2 separate regions of the Homo sapiens genome follow, and region 1 is linked to region 2. The links come from fine-mapping of genetic effects on gene expression. Tissue or cell type: whole blood. Region 2 holds a variant in brackets; the other region holds the start of a gene. All regions are shown on one strand. Distances are between the middles of the regions.

The links. PIP is the estimated chance that this variant, and not a neighbour inherited with it, causes the effect.
Region 1: it holds the start of RBL1, and the variant in region 2 is fine-mapped to the expression of RBL1 in whole blood (TOPMed, PIP above 0.99).

Annotation. Positions count from the first base shown.
Region 1 is chr20:37,091,141-37,099,242 of GRCh38, reverse strand. It overlaps RBL1 (RB transcriptional corepressor like 1), which reads left to right and starts at 3,246. Exons shown (of 22, transcript NM_002895.5): 1 at 3,246-3,470. The coding sequence starts at 3,315. RefSeq lists enhancers at 2,788-2,837, 2,958-3,227, 2,878-3,554, 3,788-3,887 and a silencer at 3,458-3,517.
Region 2 is chr20:37,007,826-37,015,928 of GRCh38, reverse strand. All of the region lies in intron 19 of RBL1 (RB transcriptional corepressor like 1), which reads left to right. Among named protein-coding and RNA genes, the nearest start is that of SAMHD1, 60 kb to the right of the region's middle. RefSeq lists an enhancer at 3,216-4,157. The variant A/G (reference allele first, on the strand shown) is at 4,346.

The DNA of each region.
Region 1 (8,102 bases), 83 kb before region 2:
ATCCCAGCACTTTGGGAGGCCGAGGCGGGTGGGATCACGAGGTCAAGAGATTGAGACCATTGTGCCAACATGGTGAAACCCCGTCTCTACTAAAAAGTACAAAAATTACCCTGGCGTTGTGGCACACGCCTATAGTCCCAGCTACTCGGGAGGCTGAGGCAGGAGAATTGCTTGATCCCAGGAGGCAGAGGTTGCAGTGAGCCGAGATCTCTCCATTGCACTCTAGCCTGGGCAACAAGAGTGAGACTCCGTCTCAATAAATAAATAAATAAATAAATAGAAAGAAAGAAAGTTGGGCATCTTTTCACATCTAAAAGCCATTTACATTTGCTTTTCTAAGATTGTATGCAAATCCTTTCCCCCTTCTGTGGGTAGAGAGGCTTTATTAATCTTTGTAATGCACTACTTCCACAGTGCAGAACCAGCTTAAAGATCACCACTTTAGTTTTTCCTCCAAGGAAAAAGAACATTAAGAATGGTGAGGTCCAGCTGGGCATGGTGGCTCACGCCTATAATCCCAGCATTTTGGGAGGCTGAGGCGGGTGCATCACCTGAGGTCAGGAGTTCAAGACCAGCCTGGCCATCATGGCGAAACCCCGTCTCTACTAAAAATGCAAAAAAAAAAGTTAGCCGGGCATGGTGGCGTGTGCCTGTAGTCCCAGGTACTTGGGGGGCTGAGGAAGGAGAATTGCTTGAACCTAGGAGGGAGAGGTTGCAGTGAGCTGAGATCTTGCCACTGCACTCCAGCCTGGGTGACAGAGTGAGACTCTGTCTCAAAAAAAAAAAAAAAGAATGGTGAGGTCAGGTCTTGCCCCTCCCCCACAAATATCAACTGCTTTTTTTTTTTTTTTTTTTTTTTTTAATAGAAGGTTAGACAAGCAGTTTGTCCTGAGAGGGGCAAGTGCAGACTGATTTTCTGCTTAGGGCATAGCAAAGCTGGAGGACAAAAAAAGAAAAAAAAATTTAAGAATTTCAAAATGAGACATCTTGGGAAAATTAGTTAGAACTTTCTTGTACTTTCTTACACTTATTTTGTGATTTAGAATTGCATATATTTTGAATTACATTTGGAAGGGTACACACTATAATCTTTTTAGTCTTGGAATCCCTAAAGGTCATAATCAGGTTCCAACCACATGCTTTGGGAGAACTCTGAAATATTAAACCACAACAGGGAGGCTAATCATAGAGGCTATCACACAATGGGATCAAAATAGAAACAACCTTCATGTGTATCTGGCTCAAAACTGAAGGGCAGAGTAAATCTATTTCACTACCCATACTTCATTTTCTTTTTTCTTTTTTTTTTTTTTTTTTTTGAGACGGAGTCTCGCTCTGTCACCAGGCTGGAGTGCAGTGGCACGATCTTGGCTTACTGCAACCTCCGCCTCCCAGGTTCCAGCGATTCTTCTACCTCAGCCTGCCAAGTAGCTGGGATTACAAGCGCCCGCCACCATGCCCAGCTAATTTTTGTATTTTTAGTAGAGACGGGGTTTCACCATGTTGGCCAGGATGATCTCGATCTCCTGATCTGGTGACCCGCCTGCCTCAGCCTCCCAAAGTGCTGGGATTACAGGTGTGAGCCACTGCAACCGGCCTTCCATACTTCATTTTCTATTCAGAAAAGCTCAATTTTGGGTTAAATGGGCATGTCCTGGGATAATAAGAAAAAATAAAACCAATATAAGGAAGGGCATATTGATTTTTGGTTTTTTTAAATGCATGCAGGTGAGGCTGGGTTTGACAGATGTGTCCTCAGTTGTTTGTTTTTGAGACAGAGTCTCACTCTGTTACCCAGACTGGAGTGCAGTGGTGCAATCTTGGCTTACTACAGCCTCTGCCTCCTCGGTTCAAGCGATTCTTTATTCTCATGTCTCAGTTGCCCAGGTTGTTAGGATTACACAAGTGCACCCACACGCCCAGCTAATTTTTATATTTTTAGTAGTGACGGGGTTTTGCCTTGTTGGCCTGACTGGTCTCAAACTCCTGGACTCAAGTGATCCACCTGCCTCGGCCTCCCAAAGTACTGGGATTACAGGCAAAGCAAATAATGGAACAACAAAAGAACGAAGACAGGGATTTATTGAAAACAAAAGTACACTCCATAGTGGGGAAGCGAACCCACGCAGCAGCTCAAGGGCCCAGACACAGAATCTTCTGGGGTCCAAATACCCTCTAGAAGTTTCCCATTGGCCACTTTATGCTCTCTTGATGTAACTGAAGTGGTAGCCCACAATCAGTCTGAGTGGTTGCAGAAAGCAACCAATCAGAGGCCAGGGTGAAGTTAACAAAATTATACTTCTATGCAAAGGAAGACTCTCCCGCCATCAGTCTGATTGGTTGTGGACAGCAACCGTTCAGAGGCTGGAGTGAAGTTACAAAGTTGCAAACAAAGACTGGAAGGCGCTCAGTGTGATTTGTTGCAGACAGCCAATTTCCCATCTGCCATGCAGAAAAGGTCCAAGGGAACAGCCTCTGGTTCTTTTGTTACTTAGGCGTGGAAAGTTGGGGTTTTCCTTTCAATTTAGTTCTAAGAAGTCACGTGAAACAGCCATAGGTTCCCTGCCTCCAGACCCTATTCTCCTGCCTCATTTACTGCAGTCTTCTCTGCCTGCCTCTTTTAGCGACTAGCATGAGATGAGGATTCGTCTTCTAATATCCGTCACCAATCCTTCCCCTCTGTCATTTAGCGAACCACTCACTGGGCACTAGGACTTTGGGGAGAGTCCCAAGAGGCCCCTCTTCGTCCAGGGGCTACTTTTTTCTCTTCCAGCCTCCATCTCCTAACTCAAGGGGTACAGCTCAGATTATGTTTGGCGCCCAGGGACAGTGACAAACCCAGGGCCCGTGGATAGAGGAGGCATCTCACTACGCTGCACGAGGCCACCTCGCAGTAGGCAGCCCAGCCCTGCCCCAAAACCCAAGAGCCTAACCAGGAAGACAGGGGGAGGCCGCGGGCTTCATCTCCCAAGAGATGGACTACACCTCCCAGCAGGCTCTGCGCGCGGGCTGAGGATCCCTCCGCTCTTTTTCTGTCCCGCCGGCTGGGCCCCCCGCGACCAGCCAAGGGCCAAGGACAGGTCTTTCAGAATCTGAGGTACATCTTCTTATCACATTTCCGGGGAGGGACTGCTAGGAGCTCCGGAGGAAAAACGGACTTTTTTTGAGGAGAAAAGCGGAGGCAGACGGTGGATGACAACACGTCCCGCAGCTGCAGATTTTCGCGCGCTTTGGCGCAGGTGGTTGTGGGTAGCGCGCCTGGGAGGGAGAAAGAAGTCGGGGGCCGTGGCGCGCAGCCCGCGGGGCCTGAAGGGATGTTCGAGGACAAGCCCCACGCTGAGGGGGCGGCGGTGGTCGCCGCAGCCGGGGAGGCGCTACAGGCCCTGTGCCAGGAGCTGAACCTGGACGAGGGGAGCGCGGCCGAAGCCCTGGACGACTTTACTGCCATCCGAGGCAACTACAGCCTAGAGGTGAGCGGCAGCAGGTGGGGCGGCCGGACCCTACCCTCGCCAGGCCCCACCCCTGCCCCGCCCCTTCCTCGGCCTATGGGGTGGTGGGAGTTTCCCCACCTAGGAGGGTCGCTGCGCAGCCAAGCGCCGAGGGGCGGGAAAGGTGGGTGTAGCTCAGCCAATCCACCCATCATTTTGAGGCGGGAAACTGAAGCTCAGGAAAGGAGCGGCCTAGGTCCCGCGCCGCTCAGACCCCAGGCTTCCTGACCACACTTCCCTCTACCCCGCCAAGCGCCACAAAAGTCATGGTGCTGCCCTTAAATCAGTAAGAACAAATATAATGGTAAAGTGAAAATGAACTGCATGCCAAGACATCACTGCCCAGAGCTTTAAATGGACCCTCAGTTCCGTCTGAACCCCTTCTGTGATCCCCATTTCACGCAAGAGGAAGCGGAGCCCTAGACGGGTTAAGCTACAGGCCCAAGGTCACACGGTTAGAGATGGAGCCAGACCCAGGGTCTGAGCCGTTTAACCTCCACCCTCTGCTTCACCAGGGTGGAGCTGCCGGTCGCTGTGCAGCAGTTTGATCAAAGCCAATGTGCACACGAAGCTGATCTCAGCCCTACGTTTCCTCCTCCGTCAGAGCATCGTCCTGATGCTTTGCATCAGTGTCTGGCTCTGAATAAAACAAATGTCAGTTATAATTACTTGATTTTTTTCCCCATCATTCTTGCATTTTATCCTCGCAACAGCCCTGTGAACATGGCATGGCAATGAGTATTAGACTGCTTTCCAGGTGATAATGGCAAGGCTCAGAAGGTTGTCTTGCCTAGGATTATTCTAATATAGAAACCCAGGCTGGGCGTGGCGGCTCACGCCTATAATCCCAGCACTTTGGGAGGCCAAGGCGGGCGGATCACTTGAGGCCAGGAGTTCGAGACTAACCTGGGCAACACGGCGAAACCCCATCTCTACTAAAAAAATACAAAAACTAGCTGGGTGTGGTGGCGCCTGCCTGTAATCTAGCTACTCGGGAGGCTGAGGCAGGAGAATTGCTTAAACCCAGGAGGCATAGGCCGCAGTGAGTGGAGATCACACCACTGCACTCCAGCCTGGGTGACAGCAAGACTCTATCTAAAAACAGAGAAAGAAACCCAGACGAGCATAAGCCCAGTGTAGACAGAATTGTGATGGAGTGTATTTCATGTAGCACCACTGGCCTCATGTTCAAAGGCTTTCATGTGCCAAGGGCGCTGGACCCACTCCCAGGGTGCACCACTGACTCACCACCCAGTGAAATAATTGCTGGGTTCAAAGGCATAGAGTTGGAAAAGTGTCGATTGTATGTGTGCCTATATATGAAGGAGTAGTACCTGAAAAAAGTGTCTTCAGAACTGGATAGACTGGGTAAAGGACAATGGTCCACATCCGTGGGTGGCATGACTGGAGAGCTGTGGGAAGAATAAGAAAGTAAGGGAGATTAGAATGAATGGCGTCTCAATTGAAAACAGATTGATTTTTGAAAGCCTGAGAAAGCATTTCTGACATCCTAGGTCTGATTTGGTCTCTCTTGCCCAAGGTCACACCATCTGTCATTGAATAAGCATTTACTGTGTCAAACTATGGTCAAGGCATGCACCTGTTTCAGATTCTTGAATATGACAAGTTTGTTCCCAGTTTTGTGGTATATCCATGCCATTCCCTCTGCCTGGAATATTTCCCCTCACCCCCAACACCAGGAAAAGTTGAGAGCTAAATCTCTAGTTAGGCAGAGTTGAATAGGACATCTTCAATGTTTGCTCTACTTATTTATTTTTTCTTTCTTTTTTTCTTCCTTAGAAACAGGGTCTTGGCCGGGCGCACGGTGGCTCACACCTGTAATCCCACCACTTTGGGAGGCTGAGGTGGGCAGATCACCTTAGGTCAGGGGTCCAAGACCAGCCTGGCCAGCATGGTGAAACCCCGTCTCTACTAAAAATATAAAATTAGCTGAGCATGGTGACGTGCACTTGTAATCCCAGCTACTCAGGAGGCTGAGGCAGGAGAATCTCTTGAAACCAGGAGGTAGAGGTTGCAGTGAGCCAAGATCACGCCATTGCACTCCACCCTGCACAAGAGTGTAACTCCATCTCAAAAAAAAAAAAAAAATGGAAAGAAACAGGGTCTTGCTCTTTTGACCAGGCCTGGAATGCAGTGGTGCAATTATAGCTCACTGTAAACTCAAACTTCTGTGCTCAAGTGATGTTCCTGCTTCAGCCTCCCCAGTAGCTGGGACTATAGGCATGCACCACGGTGCTCAGCTAATTTTTCAATTTTTTGTGGAGATAGTATCTGACTATGTTGCCCAAGCTGGTCTTGAACTGGCCTCAAGTGATTTTTCTGCCGCAGCCTCCCAGAGCATTGGGATTACAAGCATGAGCCACCGAGCCCAGCCCAATGCTTGCTTTAGAAAGCACAAATGTATGAACTGAAATTTTGTGTTTATTCTATCCAGTGTTTATTTTCCTCTTTTTTTAAAATCAATTTTTTAAAGGTATTTGGAGTAGTCATTTTCATATATCTCATGCTTCCTAAGAAGTCTTTCTCCAATCCCTACCCCTCTCTAGTCTACCTGACAAACTCCTGCTTACATTTTTATTGATTTACAAATTTTGTCTCCTTTTGTGAGGCCTTCCCTAAACTGTAGTCAAAATCAGTTATTCACTGCACTATATTCTCCTACAACACTTTATCTTCAGTTCTTCTTATAGCTTGTATATCTCACCAATTATAAATGATAGTATCTGTTCCTCTTCTTAGCTCCAGATGTGAAGTTCTGTGAGATCAGAAAACATTTTTTGTATTTCTAAGGCCTGGCAAGTAGGCCTTAGAAATGCAAAAAATGGTTTCTGATATCATAGAATTCATAGAATTTTTATGAAATAGGATTTTATCAAATAGAATTGTATTCTATTTTATTCTCATGGAATAAAATAGTTGACTTTTTTAAGGAAAGAAAGTCAGGCCAGGCACAGTGGCTCACACCTATAATCCCAGCACTTTGGGAGGCTGAGGCAGGAGGATCACTTGAGCCCAGAAGTTCAAGACCAGCCTGGGCAACATAGTGAGACCCTATCTCTACACAAAATAAAATAGGCTGGGCATGGTGGCTCACACCTGTTATCCCGACATTTTGGGAGGCTGAGGCAGGTGGATCACTTGAGCCCAGGAGTTTGAGACCAGCTTGGGCAATATGGTGAAACCCCATCTCTACAAAAATTAGCTGGGTGTGGTGGCATGTGCCTTTAGTCCCAGCTACTCCAGAGGCTAAGGTGGGGGGATTGCTTGAGCCTGGGAGGTCGAGGCTGCAGTGGCCCTCATTCCTGGGAAGTCAAGACTGCAGTGGCCCTGATTGTACCACTGCACTCCAGCCTGGGGCAACAGAGTGAGACCCTGTTTTAAAAAGTAAAATAAAAATCAGTGTATTCTTTAATGTCTTTAAAAAAATCGAAACAATAATTTTAGGACTTATATTTTCACCATCTTGCTAGAATTTTCATTTAGTAGCCTGTATCCAAAGGCTCTATAATACTTGGATGCTAATCCCAAACAACTCTTTCTCTTTTTCTTTTTTGAGACAAAAAAAGGGCCTCAGGCACTTCTCCCATCTCAGCCTCCAGAGTAGCTGGGACTACAGGCGCATACCACCACGTCCTGCTAATTTTTTTGTATTTTGTAGAGATAGGGTTTTGCTGTGTTACCCAAGCTAGTCTCGAACCCCTGAACTCAAGCAGTCCACCCACATCAGCTTCCCAAAGTGCTGGAATTACATGCGTAAGCCACCATGACCAGACCCTATTCCCAAGCAATTCATTAATCAAAGCTTGTAAAAATATTCATCTTTAAGCTTACCTGCCTCATTTAGTGCTTTGAGAAAAGACTTCTCATTCCTTCAGGGTAGGAACATTGGGTTTATTGATGGCCACCCATTTCTACCCACCCCTTTTAGATTATTGCAAGAAATCTTTTTATCAATCTTTTTATCCTTCTAGGGTTTGGTCTTAAAGACAGTCTGTGGAACAGTGTATAAGAACACTATTGTGTTGTGCTATCAGATTTACATCTGTAATTCTTTTTTTTTTTTTTTTTGAGATAGAGTCTCGTTCTTTCACCCTTGCTGGAGTCCAGTGGGTCAGTCACAGCTCACTGCAGCCTTAACCTTCTGGACTCAAATGATCCTCCCATCTCAGTTCCCCAGGTAGCTCTAACTACAGACGTGCCACATACCCGGCTAATTTTTTCCTTTTTTGTACAGACGGGGGTCTCACTATGTTTCCTAGGCTGATCTTGAACTCCTGAGCTCAAGCAATCCTCTGCCTCAGCCTCCCAAAGTGCTGGGGTTACGAGCATGAGCCACTGTGCCTGGCCTTTATCTGTAATTCTTGTTTTTTTTTTTGAGATGGAGTCTCACTCCCGTTGCGCAGGCTGGAGTGCAGTGGCGTGATCTCGGCTCACTGCAACCCCCACCTCCTAGGTTCAAGTGATTCTCCTTCCTCAGCCTCCCAAGTAGCTGGGATTACAGGCGTGCGCCACCACACCTGGCTAATTTTTGTATTTTTTAGTAGAGACGGGGTTTCGCCACATTGGCCAGGCTGCTCTCAAACTCCTGACCTC
Region 2 (8,103 bases):
AAGATGGTGAAACCCGTCTCTACTAAAACTACAAAAATTACCAGGTGCAGTGGCAGACACCTGTAATCCCAGCTACTCAGGAGGCTGAGGCAGGAGAATCACTTGAACTTGGGCGGCAGAGGTTGCAGTGAGCCAAGATCCTGCCACTGCACTCCAGTCTGGGCGACAGAGCTAGACTCTATCTCAAAAAAACAAACAAGCCCGGGTGCGGTGGCTCACGCCTGTAATCCCAGCACTTTGGGAGGCCGAGGCAGGTGGATCATGAGGTCAGGAGATCCAGACCATCCTGGCTAACACGGTGAAACCTCGTCTCCACTAAAAATACAAAAAATTCTCCGGGCGTGGTGGCGGGCGCCTGTAGTCCCAGCTGCTCCAGAGGCTGAGGTAGGAGAAGGGCATGAGCCCAGGAGGTGGAGCTTGCAGTGAGCGGAGATCGCGCCACTGCACTCTACCCTGGGCGACAGAGTGAGACTCCATCTCAAAAAAAAAAAACAACAACAAAAAAAGCCATTTTCTATATTTGTTATACATGTTGCTTACCTATCCAGGGTGGTTTTTCTGTTCCTACAAAACCAGACATCAGAGGTTAGCTAGAAAGCTGTGGATCACTTGCCTGTTTTGTGTTTTTTCTATGAGAAACTAACTGCTAGCAAGTATCTGAGCTACAAGAGCAGTGAAGTTCCAGAGAGTAGAAGTAAGCAAAAGATAATAGACGATGTCGTTTTCTGTTTTGTTTTCTTTTTGATAAGTATCTGCCAAAGAAACTTGGGTGACTGAGAGTTTGCCACTTCCTGTATATATAGGTTTCAGATCAAATTCTGCTACACAATTTCTTTCTTTCTTTCTTTTTTTTTTTTTTTTTTTTGAGATACAGTCTCACTCTTGTTGCCCAGGCTGGAGTGCAATGGTGCGATCTCGGCTCACTGCAACCTCCGCCTCCCAGGTTCAAGTGATTCTCCTGCCTCAGCCTCCCGAGTAGCTGGGATTACAGGCACCTGCCACCAGGCCCAGCTAATTTTTGTATTTTTAGTAGAGATGGGGTTTTGCTATGTTGGCCAGGCTGGTCTTGAACTCCTGATCTCAGGTATTCCACCCGCCTTGGCCTCCCAAAGTGCTGGGATTACAGGCGTCAGCCACTGCACCTGACCTTTTGTTTGTTTGTTTTGAGACCATGTCTTGCTCTGTCACCCAGGCTGGAGTACAGTGGCACAGTCACAGCTCACTGCAGCCTTGACCTCCCAGGCCCGAGTGATTCTCGACTCAGCCACGTCCTGGCTAATTTTTATATTTTTTGTAGAGATGGGGTTTCACCATGTTGCCAAGGCCAGTCTTGAACTCCTGGGTTCAAGTGATCCATCTGCCTTGGCCTCCCAAAGTGCTGGGATTACAGGCGTGAGTCACCGCACACTGCCTTACATACGGTTATTAACTAGATATATTTATTAGCAAGTAAGCAAACAACCATTGTTACAGATCCTGTACAGTGGTGGTGGCACAGGGCAGGGAGAATATCCAGTGATAATGAACTCAGGAATTCTGGCACTCAAAAAGAGAGAACACAGTGGCTTACATCTACAATCCCAGCACTTTGGGAGGCCAAGCCAGGAGGGTGGCTTGAACCCAGGAGTTCAAGACCATTGTGGGTAACATAGTGACAGCCTATTGCTACAAAAAATTTTTTAAAATAGCCACACATGGTGGTGGGCTTCTGTAGTCCAAGCTACTCAGGAGGCTGAATTGGGAGGTTGGCTTGAGCCCAGGATGTCAAGGCTGCAGTGAGCCATGATCTTGCCGCTGTACTCCAGACAGAGCAAGACCCTGTCTCAAAAAAAAAAAAAAAAAAGAGAGAAAGTTATGTAGGAGGATATACAGTCAGACAAGTCTATATTCAGATAAGTCACCTTCCAGTTCTTAGAGCTATGGTTAGATGCTATGACCCAGATTTGGACACACCAAAGAACACCAACTTGGGAAAAACAGTTCTGGTTCTATAAACAAATTCATTATGAGTTGTAAAATAATTACTGTTTAAAAAGCACACACACAATTTATATATCCTATGCAGTAAGTTCATATATCCCAGTTCTATGTCTGACCAGCACCCATAGAAAAGATTTGCTCAAGAACAGGTGCCAAGATTTCAGATGCAGGATTCAGTCAACCTTAAGGCTACCATCAAGCAAATACCGTGGATCAGAATTCAGGGCTGGACACAGGACTTCTCAGAGCTTTTAGCCTTAACATTATTATCCCTAAGAGTAAAGCTGAGAGACTTCACTGGATCTTTCATCCCTTTCATGGCTATTGAGGGTAGTGTCTCAAATTTTTTTTTTTTTTTTTTTTATTGATCATTCTTGGGTGTTTCTCGCAGAGGGAGATTTGGCAGGGTCATAGGACAATAGTGGAGGGAAGGTCAGCAGATAAACAAGTGAACAAAGGTCTCTGGTTTTCCTAGGCAGAGGACCCTGCGGCCTTCCGCAGTGTTTGTGTCCCGGGGTACTTGAGATTAGGGAGTGGTGATGACTTTTAACGAGCATGCTGCCTTCAAGCATCTGTTTAACAAAGCACATCTTGCACCGCCCTTAATCCATTTAACCCTGAGTGGACACAGCACATGTTTCAGAGAGCACAGGGTTGGGGGTAAGGTCACAGATCAACAGGATCCCAAGGCAGAATAATTTTTCTTAGTACAGAACAAAATGAGAAGTCTCCCATGTCTACCTCTTTCTACACAGACACGGCAACCATCCGATTTCTCAAATCTTTTCCCCACCTTTCCCCCCTTTCTATTCCACAAAACCGCCATTCTCATCATGGCCTGTTCTCAATGAGCTGTTGGGTACACCTCCCAGACGGGGTGGTGGCCGGGCAGAGGGGCTCCTCACTTCCCGGTAGGGGCAGCAGGGCAGAGGCGCCCCTCACCTCCCCAACGGGGTGACTGGCCGGGCGGGGGGCTGACCCCCCCACCTCCCTCCCGGACGGGGCGGCTGGCTGGCGGGGGGGCTGAACCCCCCACCTCCCTCCCGGACGGGGCGGCTGGCCGGGCAGAGGGGCTCCTCACTTCCCAGTAGGGGCGGCCAGGCAGAGGCGCCCCTCACCTCCCTGACGGGGTGGCTGGCCGGGCAGGGGGCTGACCCCCCCACCTCCCTCCCGGACTGGGTGGCTGGCCAGGCGGGGGGCTGACCCCCCCACCTCCCTCCCGGACGGGGCGGCTGGCCTGGCGGGGGTTGACCCCCACCTCCCTCCCGGACGGGGTGGCTGCCGGGCGGAGACGCTCCTCACTTCCCAGACGGGGTGGCTGCTGGGCGGAGGGGCTCCTCACTTCTCAGACGGGGCGGCTGGGCAGAGACGCTCCTCACCTCCCAGACGGGGTCGCGGCCGGGTAGAGGCGCTCCTCACATCCCAGACGGGGCGGCGGGGCAGAGGCGCTCCCCACATCTCAGACGATGGGCGGCCGGGCAGAGACGCTCCTCACTTCGTAGATGGGATGGCGGCCGGGAAGAGGCGCTCCTCACTTCCTAGATGGGATGGCGGCCGGGCAGAGATGCTCCTCATTTTCCAGACTGGGCAGCCAGGCAGAGGGGCTCCTCACATCCCAGACGATGGGCGGCCAGGCAGAGACGCTCCTCACTTCCCAGACGGGGTGGCGGCCGGGCAGAGGCTGCAATCTCGGCACTTTGGGAGGCCAAGGCCAGGCGGCTGGGAGGTGGAGGTTGTAGCGAGCCGAGATCACGCCACTGCACTCCAGCCTGGGCACCATTGAGCACTGAGTGAACCAGACTCCGTCTGCAATCCCGGCACCTCGGCAGGCCGAGGCTGGCGGATCACTCGCGGTTAGGAGCTGGAGACCGGCCCAGCCAACACAGCGAAACCCCGTCTCCACCAAAAAAATACGAAAACCAGTCAGGCGTGACAGCGCGCGCCTGCAATCGCAGGCACTGGGCAGGCTGAGGCAGGGAGGTTGCAGTGAGCCGAGATGGCAGCAGTACAGTCCAGCTTCGGCTCGGCATCAGAGGGAGACCGTGGAAAGAGAGGGAGAGGGAGACCGTGGGGAGAGGGAGTGGGAGAGGGAGTCAAATATTTTAACCAATCTGCTTATCTTAAATACTTTTGATTTCCTGAACATGAGCTCATTTTTAGCATTAGTCACACTTAATAAACATTCATTATTTTCATCAGTAAAAACCCATTTCTGGCTGTACATGGTGGCTCACACCTGTAATCCCAGCACTTTGGGAGACCGAGGCGGGCAGATCACTTGAGGTCAGGAGTTTGAGACCAGTCTTGCCGACATGGTGAAACCCCATCTTTACTAAAAATACAAAAATTAGCCAGGCATGGTGGT[A/G]AGCACTTGTAATCCCTGCCACTTCGGAGGCTGAGGCAAGAGAATTGCTTGAACCCTGGGGGCTGAGGTTGCAGTGAGCTGAGATTGTGCCACTGCACTCCAGCCTAGGCAACAGAGCAAGACTCTTTCTCAAAAAAAAAAAAAAAAAAATTCTGACCTTGAGTATGTTAATGAGCAAAGCATTGGTCATTGACTGAGATATGCCTAGCAGAAACTGTTGGAGTGGAGAATGAATTTCCTGATTAAAACACCAGCTCACTCCTCATGGGCTGTGAATTCTTCAATGTCATGTTAGCAGACTGCTCCAGAGTGGCAGTCTTGATTAGAATACTTGTGAGACCCAGGTTATAGCTTAACCTAAGTAACACAAACATAACACTGTACTCAAGTGTATTGTAGTTAATTGAAAACTTTACATTGCTTCCTTAGAAACTTGTTTTAAGGATTAAAAAGAATTATATTTAGGCTGAGTGTTGTGGCTCATGCCTGTAATCCCAGCACTTTGGAAGGCTGAGGCAGGAGGATCCCTTGAGCCCGGAAATTAAAGACCAGCATGAGCAACACAGCAAGACCCCTGTCTGCAAAAAATGAAAATAAAAAATTAGCTGGGCATGGTGGCTCACACCTGTAGTCCCAACTACTTGGGAGGCTGAGGCAGGAAGATCACTTGAATCCAGGAATTTGAGATTGGAGTGCACTATGATTGCACCACTGCACTTCAGCCTGGGTGATAGAGCAAGATCTTGTCTCTAAAAATAAAAAAGATAATTATATGTATATGTATGTATGTGTGGACACACACACACACACACACACACACACATAGTCATGTGCCATATAATGATGTTTGAGTCCGTGATGGTCCACACATACAACAGTGGTCCTATAAGATTATAGTGCTGTATTTTTACTGTACCTTTTCTATGTTTAGATATATTTAGATGCACAAATACTTGCCATTGTGATACAATTGCCTGTGGTATTCAATACAGTAACATGCTGTACAGGTTTGTACCTTAGGAGCAATATACTATACCATCCAGCCTAGGTGTGTAGTTGGCCATACAATCTAGGTTTGTGTAAGTATATTCTATAGTATTCTCATGACAAAATCATTTCAACAATGCATTTCTGAGAAGATAACCCATCATTATGCAATACACAACTATGTATACATATATGCATATATATAATATTTAATACAGGGCTTGTTCATAGTAAGGCCTTAGTAATAGCTATTATTTATAAGCAATATCAAATTTATTGTATTAATGAGTATGGCTTTTTTAGCATTAGTCACACTTAATAAACATTCACTATTTTCATCAGTAAAAACCCATTTCTGGCCGGACATGGTGGCTCACACCTGTAATCCCAGCACTTTGGGAGACCGAGATGGGGTCTCACTGTGTTGCCCAGACTGGTCTTGAACTCTTGGGCTCAAGTGATCCTCCCACCTCAGCCTCCCAAAGTGCTGGAATTACAGGCATGAGCCACCATACCCGGCCAAGTATGTTTTTTTAAATGTCTTTTTTTTCTTCAGTTTTTTTTTAATTTTAGAGATGAGATCTTGCTCTGTTGCCCAGGCTGGAATGTAATGGGGCAATCATAGCTCACTGCAACCTTGATTTCCTGGGTTCAAGCGATCCTGTCATCTCAGCCTCCCAAGTAGCTAGGGCTAAAGGTGCATGCCACCACACCTAGTTTTTAAATTTCTTTAATTTTTAAAAAAATTTTTATAGAGACAGGGTTTCACCACACCCAGCCTCCCACAATTTTAAATGTTTGGTTCATTCAAGTAAAGTATAGCTCCTTACCTTATGTTAGTATTAACAGCTGGAATTGGAATGACACAGAAATATAGAGACACTATAGTCTCTGTCTCAAGAAATTTCTAATCTAAGGAGGACATTAAATAATTTTAGACCAGGCGTGTTCGCTCATGTCTGTAATCCCAGCACTTTGAGAGGCCAAGGTGGGAGGATCACTTGAGCCCAGGAGTTAGAGACCAGCCTAGAAAACATAGGGAGACCCTGTCTCTACAAAAAGTAAAAAAAAATTAGCTCGGTGTGGCAGCGTGCACCTGTAGTCCCAGCTACTCGGGAGACTGAGGCAAGAGGATCAAGAACCTTTCATAAAAACAAAACAAAAAAATAATTTTAATTGATCCATATAATGAGAATAACCTAGAAGAGCTGTTAACAAGCCAGTATCCTTTGAAACAGTGTTTCCCAGAATGGTAGTATAAGTGTTTTGGGGGGTCCAGGCGCAGTGGCTCACGCCTGTAATCCCAGCACTTTGGGAGGCCAAGGCGGGCAGATCACCTGAGGTCAGGAGTTCGAGACCAGCCTTTCCAGCTGGCGAAACACCATCTCTACTGAAAATACAAAAATTAGCCAGACGTGGTGGCATGCTTCTGTAATCCCAGCTACCCAGGAGGCTGAGGCAGGAGAGTCGCTGGATCCCAGCGGGCAGAGACTGCAGTGAGCCGAGATTGCACCACTGCACTCCAGGCTGGGTGACAGAGCAAGACTCCGTCTCAAAAAAAAAAAAAGTGTTTTGGGGGAAGAGAGACTATACACAAAAAACTGGGGAAGTATGGAATTAAAGTGAACATGAGAGTTATTTTTTTTCCCCAACTGCAGTACTTCTCAGAGCCTTATACTAACATGAATTTCTGAATTTCCAATATAATATACAGCATTTCCTCAACTTTATTTAACCACATAGCTCCCCTCCCCTCCCACCCTCGTCAAGATCCTTTAGAAATAGCAGAAGTGAAAAAGACATCCAAATTAAGACTGACATCCCCTGGGGCTGTTTGGTTTTTGAACCATGTTTGTGTTTTCTGGTTTTCCTAAGGTGAAGGCATTGCTTCTACCCATGTTCTCAATGTTTGTAGGCCAGTGTATTGAGAATGAGAGCTTTTTTCATATATGTGCTAAATTCTTTTTAATTGGTAGTGGTTTTCTTAGCACATGGTTCTTGTGTATACAAGTAAATGATAGTTTGTAATACCCTGTAATACTCTTCCTTCCCCAAAAAATAGTAGGACAAAGTTCTGCCTGGTTTCACAAGCTATCCCAGAGTTGCACCATTAAGTAGGAAACTATGTTGGGGTAAGCTGTTATTTTACAATTGAGGGTGCTCAGTAAAACCTGAACACTGGTTCCTGATCAGGGTTCCTGTTGTATGTGGTACAATAAGGCTCTTAGAACACCTGTCACCTGCCATGTATTTGCAGAGAAATAAATGTAATTCATTTTGCTTCTTCCTTAACCTCTCAGGATATGCTTTACCTTTTAGAATCTTTCCACCTTTCTCAAAGACACAAGAAGAATATCTGCAGGCCTTTTAGTTGTCTGAAGCTGAGGTTTGCCACTGCCTCCCATACTGTAGAACTTAGCTAAACACCAGCCCAGGGCTGTTACCCCTCTAAGAGCCACTAGTGACAGTGAGCTCAACAGCTATGGTTGTGAAAACATTCTGAAGTGGAATCTAGAGAAAAGAGCACCACCTTCAGTTCATATGTTTGCATTTCTCTAGATTCCAATTTGACTTATAAGTAATACAGATGGATTGCTGAACCTTCTCTGAAAATATTAATTTCTCTACATAAAGATTTGTGGGTTTTTTTTAATATTGTAGAAAGGTCATTTAAATCACCAACTTGTATATTAAAGTATGCTTTGTGGCTGGGCATGGTGGCTCATGCCTGTAATCCCAGCACTTTGAGAGGCTGAGGCTGGTGGATCACT